7 linked regions of the Homo sapiens genome follow. The protein of the gene in region 6 purifies or fractionates together with the protein of the main gene of each other region. This does not show direct contact. Each region holds a gene or a part of one and is shown on either strand. Other genes may lie near its edges.

Evidence for each region.
Region 1: the proteins of FBL (region 6) and WDR36 purify together in Homo sapiens (affinity purification with mass spectrometry; 4 studies listed by BioGRID and IntAct, with this or other methods). This does not show direct contact.
Region 2: the proteins of FBL (region 6) and ZNF93 purify together in Homo sapiens (affinity purification with mass spectrometry; 3 studies listed by BioGRID and IntAct, with this or other methods). This does not show direct contact.
Region 3: the proteins of FBL (region 6) and ZNF644 purify together in Homo sapiens (affinity purification with mass spectrometry; 3 studies listed by BioGRID and IntAct, with this or other methods). This does not show direct contact.
Region 4: the proteins of FBL (region 6) and NOP58 purify together in Homo sapiens (affinity purification with mass spectrometry; 9 studies listed by BioGRID and IntAct, with this or other methods). This does not show direct contact.
Region 5: the proteins of FBL (region 6) and WDR43 purify together in Homo sapiens (affinity purification with mass spectrometry; 3 studies listed by BioGRID and IntAct, with this or other methods). This does not show direct contact.
Region 7: the proteins of FBL (region 6) and PHAX purify together in Homo sapiens (affinity purification with mass spectrometry; 4 studies listed by BioGRID and IntAct, with this or other methods). This does not show direct contact.

The regions. Positions count from the first base shown.
Region 1 is NC_000005.10:111,095,348-111,098,847, forward strand, and holds part of WDR36 (WD repeat-containing protein 36), read left to right. Parts: intron 1-1,731; coding exon 1,732-1,832; intron 1,833-3,374; coding exon 3,375-3,492; intron 3,493-3,500. UniProt on the Homo sapiens protein: Part of the small subunit (SSU) processome, first precursor of the small eukaryotic ribosomal subunit.
Region 2 is NC_000019.10:19,899,766-19,903,745, forward strand, and holds the start of ZNF93 (zinc finger protein 93), read left to right. Parts: upstream 1-1,180; 5' UTR 1,181-1,323; coding exon 1,324-1,326; intron 1,327-3,980.
Region 3 is NC_000001.11:90,980,536-90,984,035, forward strand, and holds part of ZNF644 (zinc finger protein 644), read right to left. Parts: intron 1,836-3,500; 5' UTR 1,819-1,835; coding exon 1,775-1,818; intron 1-1,774.
Region 4 is NC_000002.12:202,296,763-202,300,262, reverse strand, and holds part of NOP58 (nucleolar protein 58), read right to left. Parts: intron 2,885-3,500; coding exon 2,750-2,884; intron 2,419-2,749; coding exon 2,357-2,418; intron 30-2,356; coding exon 1-29. UniProt on the Homo sapiens protein: Required for the biogenesis of box C/D snoRNAs such as U3, U8 and U14 snoRNAs. Part of the small subunit (SSU) processome, first precursor of the small eukaryotic ribosomal subunit.
Region 5 is NC_000002.12:28,911,667-28,915,166, reverse strand, and holds part of WDR43 (WD repeat-containing protein 43), read right to left. Parts: intron 2,578-3,500; coding exon 2,457-2,577; intron 1,506-2,456; exon of another isoform or gene 1,417-1,505; intron 1,099-1,416; coding exon 959-1,098; intron 1-958. UniProt on the Homo sapiens protein: Ribosome biogenesis factor that coordinates hyperactive transcription and ribogenesis. Part of the small subunit (SSU) processome, first precursor of the small eukaryotic ribosomal subunit.
Region 6 is NC_000019.10:39,839,880-39,843,379, forward strand, and holds part of FBL (rRNA 2'-O-methyltransferase fibrillarin), read right to left. Parts: intron 909-3,500; coding exon 738-908; intron 637-737; coding exon 535-636; intron 449-534; coding exon 354-448; intron 1-353.
Region 7 is NC_000005.10:126,599,816-126,603,746, reverse strand, and holds the start of PHAX (phosphorylated adapter RNA export protein), read right to left. Parts: upstream 2,801-3,931; 5' UTR 2,785-2,800; coding exon 2,689-2,784; intron 178-2,688; coding exon 1-177. UniProt on the Homo sapiens protein: A phosphoprotein adapter involved in the XPO1-mediated U snRNA export from the nucleus.

The sequences.
Region 1 (3,500 bases), on a different chromosome or scaffold from region 6:
AGTGATTGGTTAGGAGGCTCTATTTTTAAGTTAGTGTTTTGTCATTTGTAACGAATAAGTATCTTTTGGTAGTATGCACTGGGACTATGTAAATATCTTAGTACTCTTCAAAGTTATTACCTGCTGCTTTTATATTTTATGATGATACTTGCCTGAATCAGTTATTAGTATGATGGTTGCCAAATGCATGTTGATTATCCTTAATCCAAAAATTTGAAACCCAAAATGCTCCTAAGTCTGAAACTTTTTGAGAGCCAACATGACGTTAACAGGGAAATATTCATTGGAACATTTCCGATTTCAGATTTTCAGATTAGGAACATTCACCTGGTTATACATATAGTCCAAAATCCAAAAAAATCCGGAATCTGAAACACTTCTGGTCTCAAACATTTCAGATAAAGCATAGTCAGCCTATAGTGATTTTCTTTTGCCATCATTCCTTCTACTGTAAGGAGAAGTTTTCCCTTTTCTCACATTTTGGTATTTCTTTCCAATGGAAGGGTTTTTTTTTAAACTATCTAATAGAATAAAACATTTCTCAGGGCAGAGAGGTACTTGTTTTACCATCAAATATGGTTCTTGTGAGAGAAACAGAAGACCTACAAGGACTGTAATGTGTATGTGTATTAAACTTATATTTTAATAATAGATTAGAAGGCAGAAGAAAGGCATTGGAACTTAAGTTGAATACAAAAGTGAATGATAAACTTATAAAACAGGGTTATGCAAACAAATACTAATATGGAATTTGCAGCATGAAAAGTACAACAATCCTGTGTCTACTAACCCTCCTGCCCCAAAAGAGGAAATGAAAAGGTCAGTGTGACCAGGATACTGAGAGAAGAATCATATGTCACGTGAGAAATGCTAAAGATTGATAGGCATATTTCCCTTGGAGAAGACTGTAGAAACAATATTGTCTTTAAATGTTTTAGGAATAGGCATATAGAATACCATATGTAATATTTTTGGGTTGGTCCAAAGGGTAGAGTTAGAGATTTAGATTTTGAGTTACTTTTAAAATTTTTCTGGAGTTATTAGTGAACTTGATGTTCCAGAAGATACTCACATGGGTTAGGCATGTGGCTCACGCCTGTAATCCCAGCACTTTGGAAGGCCGAGGTGGGCAGATCACCTGAGGTCAGGAGTTCAAGACCAGCCTGTCTAACATGGCAAAACCCTGTCTCTTCTAAAAATACAAAAATTAGCCGGGTGTGGTGGTGCACTCCTATAATCCCAGCTACTTGGGAGGCTGAGGCAGGAGAATCAGTTAAACCTGGGAGGCGGATGTTGCAGTGTGCCAAGATTGCATCACTGCACTCCAGCCTGAGTGACACAGCAAGACTCCGTCTCTCAAAAAAAAGAAAAAAAAAAAGATGTTCACGTGAAGACTGGATGACTATCTGTCAGAGCTTTGTGTTTCAAATGACAGTTTTTTCCAAATAACCTCAAAAAGCTTGTTTTCATTTCTCTAGGATTATGTTTTTATTTCTGCAAATCCTAGACATTCTCTTAGGGAAGGACAAGGTGATTTCCTATCCTTAGTTTGATAGTTACTATTAGATATCTAAAATATTTTAGTTAAAATTTTATACACTGATTCTCAACTTTGATCTTTATTTATATATTTTTTTAAATTATAGCCATGAAAAATGTTATATGTATACTTGAGGTTTCTCTTTAACATCTTAAAAATCCCTGTTTCTTTCATTTTGTATTTTCTGCTAGGTAATTCTGTTCCACAGGATATCTGCTGTATGGCAGCTGATGGCAGATTAGTCTTTGCTGCTTATGGAAATGTTTTCTCTGCATTTGCCCGTAATAAAGAGGTTGGTATCGCTAAACTACTTGTTTGTCAGTCAGTATTTGTTTGTCATGATAGTGGAGGGAACTTTAATTTTGTCATTCTTTACCCAGCACACTCTGGAACTATACAGTATTCTTTTTTTTCTAATGTATATTCAGTTTTCTGGAGGAAGATAAATTTTCAGAAAAGGCTTACTTAAAACTGGTGCTTTACTTCAGTTTCTTTGCCAGAGATGAATATCAAAATTACTTGGAGACCTTCTTCAAAATTTTTTATGCCGTTAGTTCCCATCTCAGGAGTTTTCTATTTTGTATATTTGTTGAGATAGGACATAATGTGTATTATTAAGTGTAGTTTTAAAATACTTTCCTAGAAAATTCATATTTGCACCACCACTTTATGTGGATTGGTTATTTATTATGTATAACTTAGCTTATAACTCTTTTTCTAAAAATCAGATGCCTGTTCGCTGTTTAGAGAAAGCTAGATTCTATGTTTTCTCCACTGCTAAGGAAAGATCTTTTCTGGTCTAAATCTACCAGTTGGTTTCTGAATTTGTCCTGGAACAACTAGCTTGAGAAGTGACCTGGCCTTAATGGTCTAGAATGAAAGGAAATGTAGGAATGGGGGTACAAAGATAGCCAAATGATAGTATCACTGTACTTGTCAGGGACTTGGAGTGAGGTGGTTCCCACAGTCTTTCATCATCACTTCCTGTGGCAGAGGAAGGTAACTTATCTGTAGAGTTCTTTAATGGAAGGTGTTCAGATTTTTAGAATTGGAAAAAATGTTCATTTTTGTATTGTTGTTTATAGTTTTCCCAGGGAGATATATGTGATTTACATGAGGAGACTTTATCCTATATGTATAACCTATATGTGGTTCAGATGTGGAGACTTTAATAAAGGACCTTTATGCACAGGTGTGGTCAGGGTTAGGGGAACAAAATAGGGGTGGGGAGGCGTCAGACACTGTCAACTGTAGGAAGTTGTTACCACCCCTAAGGCCAAAGGGCCAAGGAGAGGAAACAGTGTTACTGGAATCTAGTGAGAACTGAAACCATGGAGAAGGGGCTATACTTATGGAGGGATCAGCTACTGTAAGGATCTCTGTCAAAGCAGAAGGGTATGGGGAAGAAGACCCTATATCCCCCTTTCCCATCTCATCTGAAAGCCAGTTGGTGATGGAGTCTTTAGAGATCAGCCTTCTGGAATATACCATCTCGCTAGGATATATGTAGTTGCACTGATTGAATTGGGTGAGGGAACTAGGTGTGTGTGCATGCCTCCTCTCTAACCCAAGATGGAAGGCAGAGCCTCAGAGGTCTCATTTCTTTGTTCTTAATGGACAGTTTACTTCCTTATTGTTGAACTGGCTGAGGGAGCAGATGAACATGCCTGGTCCCTTAATATTTATGTGTTCATCCTAACCTTGAATAATCAAAAGTTGGGGTACATTTCTTAACAGAAGCATCTCAGGATTAGCATGTTTTTGGGATAATATGAATAATATGACATGATGACTGAGTAATAATATGAAATTCTTTTAAACTTCGATGTTTTAGATAGTACATACCTTTAAGGGTCATAAGGCAGAAATCCATTTCTTGCAACCCTTTGGAGACCACATTATCTCTGTTGATACTGATGGCATTCTTATTATTTGGCACATATATTCAGAAGGTAAGAGT
Region 2 (3,980 bases), about 20 Mb from region 6:
AAACAACAAAGTAAAGGTATGTTTAAAAAGTTTTAAAAAGCGTGTGGTCGCAGTGGCTCACGCCTGTAATCCCAGCACTTTGAGAGGCTGATGCGGGCGGATCACCCGAGGTCAGAAGTTAGAGACCAGCCTGACCAATATGAAGAAGCCCCATCTATACTAAAGACACAAAATTAGCTGGTCGTGGTGGCACATGCCTGTACTCCCAGCTACTCGGGAGGCTGAGGCAGGAGAATTGCTTGAACCTGGGAGGCAAATGTTGTAGTGAGCCAAAATCGTGCCATTGCACTCCAGCCTAGGCAGCAAGAGCAAAAACTCCATCTCAAAAAAAAAGGTTTTTTTTTAATTATAAAAATTAAAAGGGGGAAATTGTAAAATACAATAAAATTCCTCTTCAAAGGTTTAGTCTTAACTTTCTTGTTCTTTGTTCTCAAACTCAACTTGCTTGTTCTCCATGCCTCCTTGCCCCTAGTTACTGTAACAACCTTCCTTCCCAACAGCTCTAATCAATAATTCACATCTGTTCCCTTGATTACTCACTCTGCAGCCTTCCCACCCTTCAAAACCACACGTCCCACCACTGTGACTTATACATGCCCCTTCCCTTCCTTATTTGGAAAAATATTTACAAATAGCCAATCGGGTCAGTTTAGATTGTGGGGTCCGACCCTAGCCCATGGGGGAGTAACACAGAGGAAGAGACTTTACGTTAAAAATAAAAACCCCTTCCCTCCTTTGTTCAGGGTGCTCTTGCGATCGTGATTAATGCAAACAAAAACCTTTTGCAGAAGTAAATTGCCTTACTAAAAAAACTTTTGCCTGAGTACTGGTTTCACTTTGCGACACCAAACACTTTACTTCCAACGGTATTATTAATATGACAACGAAATACTTCTGTTCACCTTTTCAATACATTCAAAAAGAGAGAGTAAAAAAGAGAATGTTCCCATGCTCTGGGGTGGACGTGGCTCAGCTCAGAGAGGAAGCCCTGGCTGAAAAGGCTGCAGCTTAGGCTGTTACTCTTCTTCACTCAGCCCAGCATGTGATCACATCTTCTGTCACTCAGGTCCTGAGGGGGCGGGACCTTAAGAATTATCCAATCAGGGACGCTGGGCTGGAAACGTCCAATCAGGCAAGCAGCCGGACCGAACAGGGCGGCTTCTGGTTTGGCGGGTCCTTTGTCTCTCGGTGCAGCCGGAGCTCCAGGTCTCCTCTTCACTACTCTGTGTCCTGTGCTCCTACAGGCCCAGCCTCTGTGGCCCTGTGACCTGCAGGTATTGGGAGATCCACAGCTAAGACACCAGGACCCCTGGAAGCCTAGAAATGGTGAGAGTGCCGGTCCGACATCCCAAGCGACGGGGAGGGGCTGGTTGGAACCGGTGGAAAGTGACGGTGGCGGGACTCAGGTATCCCCTTAGTCAGCTCCACAATCTGCGCCGGAGTTCTTGCCCAGCTCGGCCTCGGTTCCCTTCAGCCATAAGATGGCGGCTGCGCTTATAGCGCAGCCCCCAGGCGTCCTGTCTCTTCACTGTGCGGTGACTGTGCCCTGGCTTGGAGCCCTCGCTGGGCAGCTGCGCACCCGCAGAGCCGCTTCTCTCCCAGATTGTGCAGAGACCACGGGAGAGTCGTCAGGGGAGAATCCTGACTCGGAGTGCGGGTTCACGAATGGGAAGAGCTTTAGTGGGTTGGGTTCACAGTTTCTCTTTTCTCCTATTAAAAATTTATGGGGCTGGGCAAGGTGGCTCACTCCTGTAATCGCAGCAGTTTGGGAGGCCGAGGCGGGCGGATCACTTGAGGAGTTGTTAGGGCAGCTAAGTTCCTCTTCAGAGACTCAACTTCCTGGTCATAAGTTGTAAAAATTGTAAATCAACCCTACCCCTTCTTTTTCCCCATTCTCCTTTTCTCAAAACATCGCGCGTTTACCCTATATGGAAAAAGTTTGTGTCTAGCCCAACCAGGATCAGCTTAGATTGTGCGGTGGGACCTCAGCCAATATGGGAAGGACACAAAAACCGGAACTGCGTTAGGGTTAAATCCCCTTCCTGGCCCAGCGCGGTGGCTGATGCCTGTAATCCCAGCACTTTGTGAGGCCGTGGCGGGTGGATCACAAGGTCAGGAGTTCTAGGCCAGCCTGGCCAACATAGTGAAACCCCGTCTCTACTAAAAATACAAAAATTAGCCGGGATTGGTGGCAGGCGTCTGTAATCCCAGCTACTTGGGAGGCTGACGCACGAGAATTGCTTGAACCTGGGAGGCGAGGTGCAGTGAGCCGAGAGCTTGCCATTGTACTCCAGCCTTGGTGACAAAGTGAGACTCCGTCTTAAAAAAAAAATAGACATCTTAAAATTTCCTTCCCTTATGTAAATACTGTGTTTGAGTAATTTCACGGATTTTTCAAACACTGAGTTTCAAAAACCAAGTGAATAACTCTGACATGACAAAGCTTGAGCCTAGTGACTCCAAGCTAAGGCTAATATTAAGCCTAAAACAGAAGGTTTTTTTTTTGGACAGAGTTTTGCGTTTTGCTCTTGTTGCCCAGGTGGAGTACAGTGGCGCAATCATGGCTCACTGAAATCTCCACCTCCTGGGTTCAAGCGATTCTCCTGCCTCAGCCTCTCAAGTAGCTGGGATTACAGGCATGCACCATCATGCTTGGCTGATTTTGTGTTTTTAGTAGAGACGGGTTTTCTCCATGTTGGTCAGGCTGGTCTCGAGCTCCCGGCCTCTGGTGATCTGCCTGCCTTGGCCTCCTGAAGTGCTGGGATTACAGGCATGAGCCACAGGGCCCAGCCAACAGGAGTTTATAAAGTCCTATTTAGCTTTTTCTGGGGAGCCTCCCCTGCAGATGTCCCAGCCTATTCACCGGAGCCATGGAAGGAGGCGTTATTCTGAGAGAAGGTACAGAGCCCCAGAAAGCTGGGGCCCCACAAGCAGATGCAGTTAAGGTTAAGATGAAAGGAAACTGGGAGGATCTTTTTTTTTTTTTTTTGAGATGGAGTCTCGCTCTGTCGCCCAGGCTGGAGTGCAGTGGTGCGATCTCGACTCACTGCAAGCTCCGCCTCCCGGGTTCACGCCATTCTCCTGCCTGAGCCTCCCGAGTAGCTGGGACTACAGGCACCCACCACCACGCCCGGCTAATTAAAAAAAATTTTTTTAATAGAGACGGGGTTTCACCGTGTGAGCCAGGATGGTCTCGATCTCATGACCTCATGGTCCACCCGCCTCGGCCTCCCAAAGTGCTGGGATTACAGGCGTGAGCCACCGCGCCCGGCCTTTGGGAGGATCTTACTGACGATGAAGTTGTTATTGTTTTGAGGAACATTTTAGACTTTGTAAAATAAAAACGTTAATTTATGTAAAAGATGAATTTCAAAAAAGTATTACAACAGGAGGAAGTACCAACTAACTCTAAAATCTTTATGGCTTGCAAAAATGTAGGCAGAAAAGGGCTTTTCTCCCTAGGGAGGAGCAAACAAGATTAGAAAGGAGGTGGGAGGGGAATGGCAAATGGAGGGTGAAAAAGTCAGATTTTACATCAGAGAATGTCTTACCCTGAAATCAGCATGTTCTTAGGAGGGATGTAAAGTGGGGCTGTATGTTGACTCAGAGTGAGGGTAGCTCAAAGTTCAGGAGCCTGAGGAAGGGAGATAAACCTAAGTAAAGTTTGATTAGGAAATATTTTATTTTAGGCCTGGCCCGGTGGCTTATGCCTTTGGGAGGCCAGCACTGGGATTACCAGTGCTGGTAATCCCAGCACTTTGGGAGGCCAAGGCGGACAGGTCACGAGGTCAGGAGATCGAGACCATCCTGGCCAACGTGGTGAAACTCCATCGTTACTAAAAATACAAAAATTAACTCAGCATGTTGGCGCCCACCTGTATTCCCAGCTACTCAGGAGGCTGAGGCAGGAGAATCGCTAGAACCCGAGAAGCAGAGGTTGCAGTGAGCCAGATCAAGCCACAGCACTCCAGCTTGGCGAC
Region 3 (3,500 bases), on a different chromosome or scaffold from region 6:
AGGAACAGAGATATGGAGAATCCAATAAACCAAATCACTGAGAAAACATAAATACTTTGTAGTGTGTTCATACAATGGAATATTACTAAAAATAAAACAGCAATAAAAAATAATGAACTGCTGACATAGTCACAACATAGATGAAGCTCAAGAACATTATGTTGAATGAAAAAGCCACATACAAGAGTACATACTATATATAAAATCCAAGAACAGGCAAAACTAAATTATGCTGACAGAATTCAGAAAGATGATTACTTCAGGGGAAAAGGCTATTAGACTGGAAGCGGGGAAAGCACAAGGAACTTTCCAAAGTAATGAAATGTTCTATATCTTGATCTAGATGGTGGTTACACATATGAATGTGTATGTGAAAAGTCATTCAGCTCTATACCTCAAATTTTATGTTACCATATATATGTAAACTATACCATAATAAAAAAGAAAAAACTACATATATAAGCATGGTGAAAAATAAGGTCAGAATAAGTTAAACCAGTGTCATCCCACAAGCAATATCAAACATAGAAAATCAGAACAAAAGTTTTAACAGACACTGTATATTCAACTAGAAAACAAACCCTAATAAGACCTTCAAGTACAAAAGAATGGCTTCTTCTCCACTTTAAGAAGATACATAGGCAAGTGTTATTTCTAATAAATGCTACAGAAGTAAATTATTATTCCTAAAGAAAAACAGCCCACTATAAAGCAAAAAATAAAATTTTTCTACACAACAAGAGGAGGTACTATAACGATCAATAAGGTATGACAAGCACTTAACAGAATTTAGAGCACAATAAGTACTCTTCAAACTACCACTACTGTTATTATTATATAATAGCAATAAAAGCAAAATTTTGCTTCAAAACATGCCCAAACCACTGACTGAGATTTCCTTCAGTGCATATTACTGAACTACAGCACTTTTCATCCTAGACTTTTTTTTTCTTTAACAAACATTGAGATCAGCAAATTTTTGACAGCTGAAACATCTGGTTAGAGGGAAAACCAAGTTAACTCCAATTTTTTCAATGTTCTTTTTCCCTTGTTTCCATTTTGAAGCCATATTCACTTACCAATAAATAGTAAATGTATCTTTTTAAAACATGTCAACGGCTTATATTATTAAAAAGCATTCTTTCACATACCAAAGTACATGATGCCAATTCAATTTTTTAAAAGTGAACAGCCTTAGAAAGCTAATCAGAATGCTATATTAGAGAGGTCATTCAGTAGAGACACCCACTAGGAAAACATTAAAACAATAATTTACAATTTTGAATACTATATTAACAGAAAGAAATCACAATTTGGCAAATTTATCCCATTTGGGAAAGTGCTTCCTTAACATTAAAAATGAAGCAAAATTCACAAAAGCAATGACTATTCATATACTTTATCAACAAAGGAGAGAACAATGAAGTGACACAATAAATGTCTTACTGAAGTGGTCAGAGTTCAATAAGAGTGGCTGAACCAAACATTAACTTGATTTTCTAACATTTTAGAATATTCACTGGAAACTTGAATGCTTTAGTTAACCTCAACACAAAAGAAGGAAACTAAAAATTTAGTTCCACAATGTGATAGTTATAATTTTACTCCCATCAAATCAACTGGACCAAGTGTGTCAAAAAGTCAATTATTTGCATTTCAAAATTTTATTTAAAAACTCTTTGGTTCTGAACTCAACACCACATTTTTAAGACATAATTTTTTTGTATTATTCCTACCTTGATATGTACATTTAACAAAGCAGTCTTCTACTTACCTAGATTTTGTCTTATTAACATCTTGCTGCAAGAACGATCTCATCCAAAATTAAATCAAACCTGAAAGAAATACACACAATGACCAAGGTTTAATTTTTTGTTTCAGGCATGAATAACCATAGCTACAATACACTATTATTTTAAATGAAAAAACACAAACCAAATTATATTTCTTGATATAACATAAAAAAACCATTCAACCAGAATACCATCATTTTAATCTTTAGGAAACTATTGCTAAGTGCCCCCCAACCTCACTGCTTTTTTTGAGAAATAATAATCTATTCAAATGAGAAATTGAAACTAATTCTTTTTTTTAAAAAAAATTCTAAATTGTTTTCATTAATTTTAATAGTATGGCAATGGCAATAATTAAAATAATTACTAAAACACACATCTTTCTAGATCAGTATTTATTTAATATTATGTACATATCAAGACACACACCAAACAGCTGAAGACAAAAATGTTATAGTATTGGAACACATAAAAGTATATACACATAAAAGTATATAACAAAGTAATTTGTTAGAGCAACCACAGTAATTATCATAATAGCCAACACTGATTACTTACTAAATGCCAAGCATCATTATTCTAGAGAATAGAATGTATCAATACTCCCCATCTTCAATTTAATCTTTAATCTAGTATAAAGTGACTTCTACACCAACAATCCACTGAACATGCATTTGCCAAAAATATATCCACCATTACTAATTTTACCATATTTCAGAACTTCTGAAAACTCAGTATGTCCCACACTCTACATATCTCCTCCTCCCCATACCTGAAACTAGCTTGTGACTCTTCTAAATTCTCTATTCTTTAAAAAATAGCACCACCACACCTACCTCTGTTCTCAAGCTAGGTTACTTTAACTGTTTTATTTCCAAACTATCATCTCTGATTTGTCCTTCCTAGAACCACAGACCTAGAATTTTCTGCATCGTATCTAGAAAAGATGAGATATTTTCTCTGCCACCCAATGCCATCATCTCCCACCAACCCAGAAGTGGACATGGGGGCCTGTTAAAAACTAAACTATAAAATAAAAGTAAGAACATTAAAAGTCTATTATAAACGACTGAGTGGGATAAGCTGAACTATTGCCCCACAAAAGACTTCCACACCCTGATCCCTGAAATCTGACAATGTTACCTCATATGGCAAAAAAAAAAAAAAAAAAAAGAAGAAGTCTTTGTAGATATGATTAAATTAAGGATCTTGAGAGGGAGGATTATTCCGAATTATCTGGGTGGACCACAGTGCAATCACATGTATCCTTATAAGAACGAGACACACACTGAAGGCAATGAGAAGACAAGCGGAGAGGCCGGGCACAGTGGCTCACACCTGTAATCCCAGCACTTTGGGAGGCCAAGGTGGGCAGATCACCTGAGGTCAGGAGTTCGAAACCAGCCTGGCCAACATGGTGAAACCCCGTCTCTACTAAAAATACAAAAGTTAGCTGGGCGTGGTGGCACGCGCCCGTAGTCCCAACTACTCAGGAGGCTGAGGCAGGATAATCTTGCTTGAACTCAGGAAGCGGAGGTTGCAATGAGCCAAGATCACGTCGCTGCATCCAGCCTAGGCAACAGAGCAAGACTCTGTCTCCAAAAAAGAGGAAGAAGAAGAAGACATGGCAGAGAGAACTGAAAATGCTGCTTTCGTAGACTGGAAGGACATGGGCCATAGCCAGGAATGCCAGCACCCACCAGTATC
Region 4 (3,500 bases), on a different chromosome or scaffold from region 6:
CACCAGAAGGATCGTAAGTCTTCACTTCACTGAAAGACCCAAAAAGTTTTAGAAAATCTCTAACAAGTATCTGGAATTGAAATAATTCTCAAGAGATAAAGAAAATGCCATTAGATAATACTTACATAAGCACACAATGTTGTTTCATTTTAGTGGCTTTGGGGTAGTTTATGAAGACTAATAGTTTCCAAAAGTTAAAGGTATTAATATTTTTCAAGTAGGTCAATCACATTCAAGAGATGTGGTGAGCTAAATGAATTCTGATTTAGTAATCAATGTAGTTACTATGGTACAGGAAAACACTCAATCAGCATGGGGGAAATGAAAGGAGAAAACGTCTTCACACCTAACTAGAAAGTGAAAACTGAACCATCCAACTTTCAGAACACTGCTCAATGGGGGAAAAAAAAAAAAAAAAAAGCAGAACAAAAAATCTAAACCAAGCTTAGTATAGAAGTCTTCATCACAAGATCACAAGAACAAGAAAGGATACAAATACATGCACATGGAAAAGATTCCATAGAACCCAACATTTGCTTTTGTTCTAATGTAAGCAGAAAGAAAATACTGAAATGAGTGCCTAAAATGTGAATGGATGCTTTAAGTGCATATGTTTAAAGTAAAAAGTACTAATTGCACAGGAACATTAAAAAAATTGGTTCAAAACAAGCTAAAAAATGTTCTGTTTTTTAAGCAGACCTGTAAGCTGAATGACTATTTAATTTTTTTAGGTTAAAGACATTTATAATTTAAGAAACAAAGAACCATGTTTGTCAACTAGAGATAATAAGTTATAGACTATAAATATTGCAGAATGTATGGCTATTGTAGAAAGCTTGGAAAATTCACAAAAAAGAAAATGTGAATGCCCACAGAAACACATTTGATTTCTTTCCAGAAAACACTAAATTATACTTAAATATGTATTTATAATTGGTAATGTTCTATATATTAATTACTCTCCTCATCCACTTATAAGATTTTACTATTAAAATTCTTGAAGGAGGCCGGGTGCTGTGGCTCACGCCTGTAATCCCAGCACTTTGGGAGGCCAAGGCGGGCGGATCACGAGGTCAGGAGATCAAGACCATCCTGGCCAACATGATGAAACCCCGACTCTACTAAAAATACAAAAATTAGCTGGATGTGGTGGTGTATGCCTGTAATCCTAGCTACTCGGGAGGCTGAGGCAGGAGCATAACTTGAACCGGGGAGTCAGAGGTTGCAGTGAGCCGCAATCGTGCCACTGCACTCCAGCCTGGCAACAGAGACAGACTGTCTCAAAAAAAAAAAAAAAAAAAAAAAAAAAATCTTGAAGGATTATGACTCCTGAAAGTATAATTTATTGGGTTAATGACTAGGAACATTTTGAAGAATCTTGATACATACTGTGAAATGGCTTCCTAGAACAGCTGTGCCACATTCTACCTGCATCATCACAACCTCACCAGCATTGAGCATTGCCTCAAATAATAACCCAAATACCCCTCCACATACAAATCTTTTGTTAATCTGATAGTTAAGTTTGAATGCTTTGTCATGCCTCAGCCATCTTTAGACTTGTTTTCTGTCTTTATACTTTTTACAAAATAGGTTTCTGTAGGGATTAACTCTGAATGAACTTTTTTTGAGACGGAGTTTTGCTCTTGTTGCCCAGGCTGGAGTGCAGGGGCGCGATCTCAGCTCACTGCACCCTCCGCCTCCCGGGTTTCAAGCAATTCTCCTGCCTCAGCCAGGTGCCCGCCACCACACCCAGTTAATTTTTTGTATTTTTAGTAGAGATGGGGTTTCACCATGTTGGCCAGGCCTGTGTTGAACTCCTGACCTCAGGTGATCTGCCTGCCTCAGCCTCCCAAAGTGCTGGGATTACAGGCATGAGCCACTGTGCCCGGCTGAGTGAACTTTTTGATAAAGAACATATTATAGAGGAACTTTAGATTAAAAAAATTTACTATCAATATCTGGAAATGAATAAATTAAATATGTATATGAATGAAAACTAGTAGAAGTTAATGCGGAAAACTAAATGGCATGGAAAAAAATTAGGGGTGCACAACATGGTTAACTACAGCTAACAATGTATTATATTCTTGAAAATTGCTAAGTAGATTTTAAGGTGTCCTCACCACAAAAAAAGTACATAAGACAATGCATGTTAATGAGCTTGACTTAATCATTCCTCAATGTGCACATTTTCCAAAACAACATACACACAATAAACATACACAATTTTGGTCAAATAAATAAATTTGAAAAAACTATGGGCACATCAAGGTGAAGTTTACAATAAAAAATTACTGTCAATAATTAACATTTAAAAAAACTATTCACCCCATCCTCACTTAAATGTACTCACCTTTTGTGTTCATATTTTTCTGTTTTTGCTAATGCTTTTCCTGTTCCACTTATTTTTCTTATCTAAGAAGAAAACGAAAAATTACAAATACACTTCTAAGTCATAATCTCTTTATAATACACTATACAGTCTAGTGAATCAGTGGGCCAGCAAACAGCAATTTCTGCTATTTTTTGTTTTGTTATTTTGAATAGCATATCCTAATGGCAAATGCAGTTGGATACATCAATTCTTGGTAAATAATAGCAATTGTTAACAGTAGGCACAAAAAGAATACTTTAGACATACTAATAAGTATCATAAAACTGTTTAGCAGATGAAGTTAATAAATTTACTCAGTTTATTAACTTTTGACAAGTAATACTTCTGGAATAGGCATGATGTAGTTCTTACCCCTCTGTCTTCCAAAGTTCTCAACCTGGCCTCTAATTTGGCTCTGTTCTCAACTCCCATTGCAGAACTTGAATCCTCACCAAAAGCATCATAACGGATAGCCAAAACGGTTTTGGCTGCCAGCATTCGAGAAATCTAATAGAAAAACATGAAGAACTATATTCCATGTTCAGATGTAAAATCCTCAATAACTTGGATGTTTTAAAATCAGGAGTTATAAAACTATTATGAATCATACAATTCAAATCATCCATCGTATTTCAACCTTTGCCACAATCTAATGGCCATATATCACCACCAACACTTCTGTGGCTGAAAAGATTTTACAGCAATTCATGTCAAATATTAGCTCAAACTAGGTTTTTTTAAAAAATATTTTTAAACTTTAGTTTCTACTCAGTGACATTAGTTCTGTGCTATGAGGTCACTGAAAAGAAGTGCATCTTTTTCCTCGTAACAATCTTAAATATGTGCGGGTTCTGGCCGAGCGCGGTGGCTCACGCCTGTAATCCCAGCACTTTGGGAGGCCGAGGCGAGTGGATCACGAGGTCAGGAGATCGAGACCATCCTGGCTAACACGGTGAAACCCTGTCTCTACTAAAAATACAAAAAATTAGCCAGGTGTGGTGCCGGGCGCCTGTAGTCCCAGCTACACTGGAGGCTGAGGCAGGAGAATGGCGTGAACCTGGGAGGCAGAGCTTGCAGTGAGCCGGGATGGCACCACTGCACTCCAGTCTGGGCGACAGAGTGA
Region 5 (3,500 bases), on a different chromosome or scaffold from region 6:
TTAAGGAATACATATTGGATGAGTCCCACTTCTAAATGAGTATTATCTTGTATAAATTCATAGTAACTTTATATGGTGAAGAGCATGCTCAACTAATTATTACTAAGATGAGAACTGTCCATAAACAGCAAGGTGGTTTTTTTTTCAAGCCAACTTCACCATCAGATGCTGCAATAAAATCCAGGAAATTTCTTTAAAAACTTTTTGATGACTTTGTATCACCAAATTTTTTATTTTTTGAGATGGAGTTTCGCTCTGTCGCCAGGCTAGAGTGCAGTGGCGGGATCTCGGCTCACTGCAACCTCCGCCTCCTGAGTCCAAGCAATTCTCCTGCCTCAGCCTCCCGAGTAGCTGGGACTACAGGCGTGCGCCACCATGCCCGGCTAATTTTTGTATTTTTAGTAGAGACAGGGTTTCACCATGTTGGCCAGGATGATCTCGATCTCTTCACCTCGTGATCCGCCCGCCTCGGCCTCCCAAAGTGCTGGGATGACAGGCATGAGCCACGGCACCCGGCCTGATTTTTACTTTTAAAAGAGGTTTCAAAGGGAACTAGTTAATAGCAGCTACTGCAAAAAGGAGTTACTGGAAATTCTGAGACAGCCAAGCAATTTTATGCCCTCCATAAACAGACACTACTGCATTAACCCAGTGGTGCCATATATTTCAAAATCAAAGGTCTTTCTAAATTTTTTAAAAGATATTCTAAATTGCCCAACCACAGAAATGTTCAGTCCACTGTATCACTAAACAACCACAGGAGGCTTTAATACATAATGCACTTAATTTTTTCTCAGAAAGATCTGTTTTGTAGGCAGGCTCAATTTTTTATTATGACTCAATGTAAATCCAACATTAGATACAACAAATAAAGTCCCATATTCATAATTTACATTAACTACATAAGCTCTGACAGATTCTTTCAATGCTACCTCCCAAATCCAAAAGAACTACATACCAGACATTAAGTAACCGGTCATGTACTGCTCCAGATAAGAAATAAAGACCTGTAATTCCATCAAAGGGCTGGCTCTCATTAGGAGGTCTGATGGTAGTGAACATCAGTGACGAAACTGGCGTTGCATGTCCTGTGAAATGCTAGAGAAAGTTAAATCTCAGTTAGGAGAGCAGATTCAAAGCAGGGACAAAAATTAATAGTATATATTATCAAAACAAGCCATATGTGATACATATCGGAAAGGAGAGCTCCACGATGAAGTAACTGTTCAATTCAATTCTAAGCAAATAAGGTTATTTGTGCTATAATTCTCCCACTTTTTAAAAAAATCCATCTGAAAATACTGAAAATTTAGATGTTCCTTCTAACTCCCATGACCCTACCACTCCGCACCTTTGTTTCTTACATTCTTGAATTAAAGATTCACTTAATTCTATCCATTTTAAAAGGCATACTTTGGGTGCTCAGACACAGCCAAGGAATTGTAGGTCCTCATTTTACTCTCAGTGAGTCGAAACCACAATATTAAGGCATCATCACAGCACCAAATATTCCGTAAGCCCTGAGTGAAAGCTTTTTCCTCCTCCAAAAATATAATACTAAATCTCCACAGTCAAATACAGTAAGTGGACTAAATGCTGGATGTAGGCTAGAAATCAAAATTACCATAATCATCACATAGTAAAAACTTTTTTATTAAGAAAATCTTTTTTGAGCTAGGCCTGGTGGCAAGCGCCTATACTCCCAGCTACTCAGGAGGCTGAGGTGAGACATCGCTTGAGCCTGGGAGGTCAAGGCTGCAATGAGCTATGATGGCGTCACTGCAGTCCAGCCTGGGCGACAGAGAGAGACCCTGTGTCAAAATCTGTTTTGTTTTTTAAAAGGTAACTTTCTTTTTTGTGGATACATAGTTGGTGTATATAATAAAATTTAAATTTTAAAAAAACCTTGTTTCGGCTGGGCGCGGTGGCTCACGCCTGTAATCCCAACACTTTGGGAGGCCGAGGCAGGCAGATCACGAGGCCAGGAGATCGAGACCATCATAGCTAACACGGTGAAACCCTGTCTCTACTAAAAAATACAAAAAATTAGCCACGCGTGGTGGCGGGCGCCTGTAGTCCCAGCTACTCGGGAGGCTGAGGCAGGAGAATGGCGGTGAACCTGGGAGGCGGAGCTTGCAGTGAGCCGAGATCACGCCACTGCACTCCAGCCTGGGTGACAGAGTGAGACTCCATCTCAAAAAAAAAAAAAAAAAAAAAAATCTTGTTTCTTGAATATTGGTTCTGTTCATTTTTCCAATACGTTTGAAGTAGACATGTCTAGTCTCTTTAACATCAACAAATCAGATTAGGAGGCTAACTTTTATCCACTAAACTATTTGATGTACCTGACAATGAAGAATTTGTATTCTTAAAATAATATCTTATGGTTCAAACTTCTGCCTTTCTCTGTGTTTACTCTATAATTTTTATGCTTACAAATAATTTGATTCGCTCACCCTGTAGACTTCTTTGGTCTCCAAAACCCATAGTTTGATTGTTCGACCAGCTGAAAGCAACATCTTTCCATCTGGGCTGATACATAGGGAACTGACACTGCTATTGTCGCCTTTCCATTTGCTATATTGTGAAGAGAAAAAAAAGCATCTCAATACATGAGAGAAAACTTTACTCAGAGCAGAAAATAACAAAAAAACAAACTGAACAATCATTAAAAATATCGCCTCAGGTCCTGTGACAATTACATTCCCTAAAAGCTTGTGTCAGGTAACTAACCCTGGACATACTACTGTGATAAAAGCTTCATTGATTGCATTCCTTAACACAGCACAATCTCCCTTTGGCAGGCATGGGATAAAGATTCTCAACAAGTATCAGAAAATGAGTGAGTGAGAGTGATAAGAATGTAAAATGGGTAGTTGTACATCCTGTGACCCAGGAGATGAACTTTGCGAATGTCCAGGAAAGTTCCATACTGGCTAGACCTCCCCAAGCCCATCCTAACCCTACCTCAATTCTCGCTTTCTCTGGAAGGCTGGCCTTTAATTAATTCCCTTAATAACACAAACGATTTCTCTAAAGTTGCAACCCAAAAAGGTTATTTCTACCCTAAATCCACATGAATGTACCCCAATCTGACAGGTAAAAATTAATTAGGTACAAATGACTCCTTTTCACTACCTCAAATATGATTAGAAGCTGGAGTCTTTGCTGTTTGTTACTCATATTAATGCTGTCATAGGCAATAGGGAACTTGGCTATTCACTTATAAGAAGTAACAGCAGGGGCAGGGCATGGTGGCTCATGCCTCTAATCCCAGCACTTTGGGAGATTGAGGTGGGCAGATCGCCTGAGTCCAGGAGTTCGAGACCAGTCTGGGCAATACAGCGAGACCCTGACTCTACAAAAACTACAAAAATTAGCCAGGCATGGTGTAGTAGTCCCAGCTACTCTGGAGGCTGAGATGGTAGGATCGCTTGAGCCCAGGAGGCAGAGACTGCAATGAGCCAAGATCGCACCACTGCACTCCAGCCTGGGTGACA
Region 6 (3,500 bases):
CTGGAGAAGCAGATGATAAGGACGCAGCCTCCCACAGAGCTGGGAGTGGGAACAGCAAGGCCAGGGTGGCTGGAGGACACTTGGTCAGAGAGTTAGTGAAGGAGACAAAGCCAGGGGGCAGGGAGGGGGAACTGGAATGCACAGGGTCTTGGAGGCCTGAGTGAAGACTCAGGAGTCTAACTGGAAGGCCGTGGGGAGTCACAGAAGGCGGATGAGGGAGCAGACAGTGTGGTTTACATATTATGACAATCCTCCAGCTGTCACGTGCAGGACACATGGTGAGGGCAGACACAGACTACTGGCTACACCCTCAGCTGCGACCCTGGTGGCTTGGACAGGGGCCCAGTTCTCACCGAAATCGAGACTCTCTTCTCTCCATAAACTGATTCCCCAGGGACCAGGTTCTTGGTGACCAGTGCATCTTCCTTTCCTCGACAAATGAAGACACCTGGGTGAGGGGATCAGAGCAGGGGTGAGGACCCCCAGCCTCTCCCTGCCCCGAAGCTCAGCCGGCTCCCTGCCTTCCTCACTCACCCTCATGCCGATGCGGCTCCACCATCACATTCTTCCCCGACTGGTTTCCTCTTTTTCCTCCCCGACCACGACCCCGGTTGCCACCAGAATGGAAGCCTCCACCTATAAAGGAGAGGTACAACAGGAGAGAAAGATCCTGAATCTCCGCCCTCCCCACTCCCCACCTCAGGAAGGCCTCCTCTGTAACCCCTAGCCAATCTTACCACCTCTTCCTCCTCCTCCACCGCCGCCGCCGCCTCCACCTCCTCCTCGTCCACGACCTCTAAAGCCTCCGCCTCGACCTCGGCCCCCGCCAAAGCCCCCTCGGCCTCCACGACCACCACGGTCACCAAAGCCCCCTCGGCCGCCAAAGCCACCCCCACGGGGACTGAATCCTGTGGGGGAAACAAAACAGGAGTCAGGGCAATGAAGCTTAAAAGGTTAAACCACCTTGTACCCAGCAATACCTCTCAGGTGAGAAACCTGAAATACATGTGCCCGTGTACAGCAGGACACATTTCCAAGAATGTCCACAGCAAAAGAAAAGTGAAGACTAACCCAAATGTCCATCAATAGAATGGGCAAATAAAATAGAAGACATTCACAATCAAGATCATGAAAATGACCTTCAGTTATACACAACAGACTAATAAATGTTAAAATCATAATAATTTTTTTTGCTTAGTGCTTTTTTTTTGAGACAGGGTCTTGCTGTGCCGCCCAGGTTGGAGAGCAATGGCACAATCACAGCTCACCGCAGCCTCGAACTCCTGGGCTCAAGCAATTCTCCTGCCTCGGTCTCTGAAGTAGCTAGATTACAGGTGTGTGCCACTACTCCCATAGTGTAGAGATGGGGGTCTCACTATGTTGCCCAGGCTAGTCTCCAGCTCCTGGCTCAAGTGATCCTCCTGCCTTGGCCTCCTGAAGTGCTGGGATTACAGGTGTCAGGCACCACACCCAGCCACAATCATACTGCCCAAGAAAAGGAGCAAGGGAATGAGAAATGTAAAACTCATGATATTGGTGAATGGGAAGGAGATATTAATATGGGGTTGGGATAGGGGAGGAGTACATGAATAGATGTAGGTTACTGTTAATATCCTGGTTTCCTTGGTTGCATAGCAGATTCACAGAATTCATTCCATGTCAATATTAATTACTGTGAAGAGTGAGCCCTGCATACGAGCACATGCTGTGACAACAGGGCCCCCTAGACTCTGCAAACGTCTTCATACTCTCCCACTCCTGACCTTGGAGCTGGAAGAAAAGTGTCAACCCCAGCCCCAAAACAGAGGGGAATACAGGATGATGTCAGCCCTAACTCATCTCCCTGCTTCCAAGCTTAAAGAAGTCCCTCTCAGCTCAGGGGAAAAACAAGAAAAAGCAGAACAAACTGTCATTTAAGGATAGGCTGCACTTTACAAGTAGTTTGCGACTTGTCAGTAAGATCGAAATGTTTAAGAAATAACAGACTCAGACAGGCTTTATTCTTACCAGTTCAGGACAACAAACACCATTAGCACAAAACAACGTTTAAAACAGAACTCTGGTGCTAACAGATTCAATATTTTCTCTGATTTGGTTTCAAAAACTCAGAAGTACTAAATCACACAAGTTAAAAAAAATAGTTGGAAAACTAGTGGTTTAAAATTATCTCACATTCTCACATGATGTAATCTATTCAATCATAAGCTTGCTTTTTTTTTTTTTTGAGACGGAGTCTCACTCTGTCACCCAGGCTGGAGTGCAGTGACACGATCTCGGCTCACTGCAAGCTCCACCTCCCAGGTTCACGCCTTTCTCCTGCCTCAGCCTCCCCAGTAGCTGGGACTACAGGCGCCCACCACCATGCCCGGCTAATTTTTTTGTATTTTTAGTAGAGAAGGGGTTTCACCGTGTTAGCCAGGATGGTCTCAATCTCCTGACCTCTTGATCCGCCCGCCTCAGCCTCCCAAAGTGCTGGGATTACAGGCGTGAGCCAGCGCGCCCAGCCTTGCTCATGTTTTTTGTAAAGATACATTATGATCTTGTCCTACGAACCCTTCATGCACCTTAATGGTATTAAAGATAAAAAATGTGTCTTTTAACAGCCATTCCTAATTTAATCTTTAAAAATGAACGGTTTCATTTTCAAAACTCCCAAACAACCAAAAGTTGTTTACTTTTAATCTTCTACTCCCTCTACAGTCCACTTTTCACACAGCAGCTAATACATGCTATTTTTAAAACAGCAAGTAAGATCTCATCATGCCCTTGCCCAAATCCCTCCAATGGTTTTCCACCACATCCAAAATGAAATAAAAAGTCCTTTCCCTGGCTTACAAAGCCTGAAATCAAAGCCTAAAATCTTTAGGCTTTAAATTCTGATTTCATTGTTCTGGGCGCAAGGTCTTCCCCTAAAGCTCTCCAGGTGACTCCAAGGTGCAGCCCACATTGAGTATCATCATCCTAAGGATCTGGCCTGTGCTGACTTCCCTGACTTCATTCTCTTTATGCTGGGCCCCATGCTCTTCCCCACCAAGCATACACAGTCCAGCTTCTAAATCTTTACCACGTGCTGTTCCCACTGCCTGGCTCCTGCAGACATGTGCATGGCTCACTCGCTCCTTCACTGCATTCTGGTCTCTGATAAAATGTTAGTTCCCCAGAAGGGCCTACTTTGGCCACAGTACCCTTACCCTGCTTTATTTCCCTTCAAATCAATTATCACACATGGCATTTTTAATATTATTACCACCTGCCTCCCCCACTAAGATCAAGCTCCAAATGGGCAGGGATTTTTAACTGTTTTGGTCACCACCGCATCCCCAAAACCCTGCACAACATCTGGCACAAAGTATGGGCTCAATAAATGTTAAATGAGCACTGAGCTGATGACTCTTAAACCCTGGGCCCTGCCTCAAGGAGAAAGCACCCTCTATTTGTTCAGAAAGCACACAATCCATCAGATGGTGACCAGGGAAGTGCCGGTCACTCCCCTCAAGTAT
Region 7 (3,931 bases), on a different chromosome or scaffold from region 6:
AGGAGGGTTAAAACATTTCTGTCGTTTGCGTTTCCAAAGACAGCTATCATCATCTGAATCAGAAAAACTTTCTTCACTTGAATCCACACTTTCAACAGCTCGATAATGTGATACTGGTGCACATGCAGTTGCCGTGTTCTGGAAGGCCCTCATAGCACTGTCGCCACCTAGCACTTTCTGCAAGTGAAAAGAAACACAATCAATTTCACAAAACACATAAACTCCACCTACCTAATTTTTAAAAATTTAGAGATTCAACTTTGCCATTCCAAAATGGAACTGATCTTCAAAGACAAATCTGAGACCAATCAAGTTCCTACTTTTCTAAGTTCCACATGGAATTTGCCAATTTAAAAGCCACAAATTCTTATCTTTACAACTAATGCAGCACTTTGTTCTAAGATCTCCTTCTACTATATTACCAAAGCTCTTGTCACCTTTAAAAGATTTCAAACTTTTCAGTTACTGTCAGAATGTTTTAAAATGACATACATAATAATTGTTACTTTTTTTTTTTGAGACAAAGTTTTGTTCTGTGGCCGAGGCTGGAGTGCAGTGGAGCTATCATGGCTCACCACCTCTCAGGCTCAAGCGATCCTCCTACCTCAGCCTCCTGAGGGACTGGGACTACAGGCAACCTTCACCATACCCAGCTATTTTTTTTTTTTTTTTGCATTTTTTGGTAGAGACGGGGTCTTGCCAAGTTGCCCAGGCTGGGCATGTATTTTTTTTTTTTTTCTTGAGATGGGAGTCTTGCTCTGTCACCCAGGCTGGAGTGCAGTGGCGCGATCTCGGCTCACTGCAAGCTCCGCCTCCCGGGTTCACACCATTCTCCTGCCTCAGCCTCCGGAGTAGCTGGGACTACAGGCGCCCGCCACCACGCCCAGCTAATTTTTTTGTATTTTTAGTAGAGAGGGGGTTTCACCGCGTTAGCCAGGATGGTCTCGATCTCCTGACCTCGTGATCCACCCGCCTCGGCCTCCCAAAGTGCTGGGATTACAGGCGTGAGCCACCGCGCCCAGCCTGGGCAAGATATTTTTAAAACCCCAGAGTCCACGGCATTAAGTTTATTTACCAAGTCATGGGTCAATTTATGTAAAAACAACCTGAGATTGAAAAACAAAATATCTTGGTACTAATTTCCTAAACATTTATATGCAAAAGCAAGTATTTGTCTTTGTTAAACTCCTACTACGCTAGAAATGGAAGTTGGGACTATCTATCTTCCTATCTTCAAATAATAATCAGAGATAACACTTACCAGGCATTACTGCACACTGTATGCTCCACAGAATCCTTGCAATAACCCTATCAGTGGTACATCATGCCAATTCCACAGAGGTAGACAAAAAGCAGTGAGGCTAAATAAACCTGCTGTAGGTCACACATCGGTGGCCCCAGGATCTGAACACAGGCAGCCTGGCACCAACGCCCTCTCAAAGAGGTTGCTACCTACCAAGGCAGTCAAGACAAATTCCCGTTTAGAAAGCAGGGAAGCTGGGCCGGGCGCGGTGGCTCGCGCCTGTAGTCCCAGCACTTTGGGAGGCCGAGGCGGGTGGATCACTTGAGGTCGGAAGTTCAAGACCAGCCTGGCCAACATGGAGAACCCCCGTCTCTACTAAAAATACAAAAATTAGGCCGGGCGAGGTGGCTCACGCCTGTAATCCCAACACTTTGGGAGGCCGAGGCGGGCGGATCACCTGAGGTTGGGAGTTCGAGACCAGCCTGACCAACATGGAGAAATCTCGTCTCAACTAAAAATACAAAATTAGCTGGATGTGGCCGGGCGCCGTGGTTCACACCTGTAATCTCAGCACTTTTGGAGGCCGAGGCAGGCCGATCACTTGAGGTCAGGAGTTCGAGACCAGCCTGGGCAACATGGTGAAACCCCGCGTCTACCAAAAATACAAAAATTAACCGGGCGTGGCAGCGGGCGCATGTAATCCCAGCTACTCGGGAGGCTGAGGCAGGAGAATCGCTTGAACCCGGGAGGCGGAGGTTGCAGTGAGCCGAGATCGCGCCACTGCACTCCAGCCTGGGCAACAGCGTGAGACCACCTCAAAACAACAAACAAAATCAGAGAGGCTAATGCAAAAGCCTAGTGCCATGGTACCGCATGACAAAGCTAGGTTCGGTGGAAACATGGAAAACCAGATCTTTGAGTGAGCGATAAACTTCATTCCTGGGCCTCAGTCTCCCTTCGGCTCAGGGAGAAAATGAGCATCACAGGCTGTTTCAGGCTGATGTCCCTAGATGCTACATATTTGGCAAAATCTGCCCCTTTATGGTTACCTAGCGGCGATGGAGTGGGGAAGCCCCAAGTTTAGAAAAGAAAGAGCGGTAGGCGGAGGTGAGACGTCTAAGAGGCCGCCGCAAGCCGGCCTCCAGGAGGCGCCAGGGCTCGCGCGCCCCGCCTCGCAGGGAGCAGCCAGTTCGGGGTTCGCACGGCCAGCCGCTGCCGCTGCCGCCGTCGCCCCTCGCCCCTCGGCCCCCGCAGCCCGGGCTCCGTGAGCCCGCCTGGGGGACGTCTGCTCGCCCCTTCTGCGGCCACTGACCCGACAGCCTGGGCTCCTCGCTCTGGCCCGGGCTCCTAGCTCCCACCCCTCACCCTCACCGCTGCCTGCGCGCTCCCCGGGGCCCAGGCTCCGCGCGCCCAGCCACGATCACCCACCCTCCTTTCACACTCACTGGCAATTGCAGCGGCCTGTCGCTGGGTGCGACCGTCATGTCGGAATCCGAGTCGGAAAGCTGCCCATCTTCCATATCGCCGACCTCCAACGCCATCTTCCCGCGGTGCGCTGCGCTGCACAGCGGCGGGTCAGGAGAGCACTTCCGGCGGGGCAGCCGGAAGGCCCGGCGGCTCGGCTGCTCGGGCGCCCCCGCGCGGAGGCCAGCCTGTCCCAGCGGCCTGAGGCGTCCCATTGCATTCCAACTACCCCGGGAAAATGAATCCCTTGTTCCCCCAACACTTTTCTTCCAAACTTTATTTTCGTGCAAACATAAATATGTCACGTATCGCGGTCGTCTGGGATTCCTCCCTTGGCCGTACATCCTTCCCCTGTATGCTCTGGACAAGCCTCCCCGCTTCTGTTCTTGCTCCTCCACAATCCACTCTACATATTGCTTCCAGGGAAGCCTTTCAAGCTGTATAGTCCGCCCTCTGTATCCACTCCCCATCCACGGATGCCGAACCTGCGGATGGGAAGGACCCACCGTGCACCCCCACATAATGTAAGGGGCTTGAGCATGGCGGATGTTGGTATCTGTGGGGGTCCTGAAAACAATGACCCGCGGATACCTAGGGAGGATTGTACCTTAGCTCGAATCTTCCAAGTGCATCCCTCCCCAAAACAAGGACTGAGTTCTCAGCATGGTGTTTGAAATGTTTGTTTTCCGGTGTCGTAAAGAAATAGCAACATAAATTTAACTTACTGAATAAGGCCATTTTTACTTTCTGCAGAAAGGGTACACTCGCCAGCAGTTTTGCCAGGAGAGTACACTGAACAAAAGGAGACAGGGTCATTTATAACCTGACGTGTTTACCTTACTGCTGTGGCTGGTTTTTATTGGCTGGACCGGACCTCACATTTTGTATTTGTCCCGATTGGCTAGCAACTTAGAACTTTTTAAAAGAGGCAAAGGTAGAGGAGAACAAAGGAAGGAGGAAGTAACTTGTGGAATGCTGAGAAAGATGAAAACACTTTTAAATAAGGAAGAGGAACAGGCTATGACCTAATGCTTGCTTGGACTAGTAAAAGCATGCCAGGGCAAATATTTAGGCTAAATTGTGGGAGCTAAGAACATAAAGTACATTTTTTTTTATTATGGCTAGCAGATATTTAAGAATGTTAGCACAGATCTTTGAATAAATTTTGCTTTTAAGAGAAGTTACTATTTATTCCTAATTAGACGGGGAGGAAAGTTTTTGAAG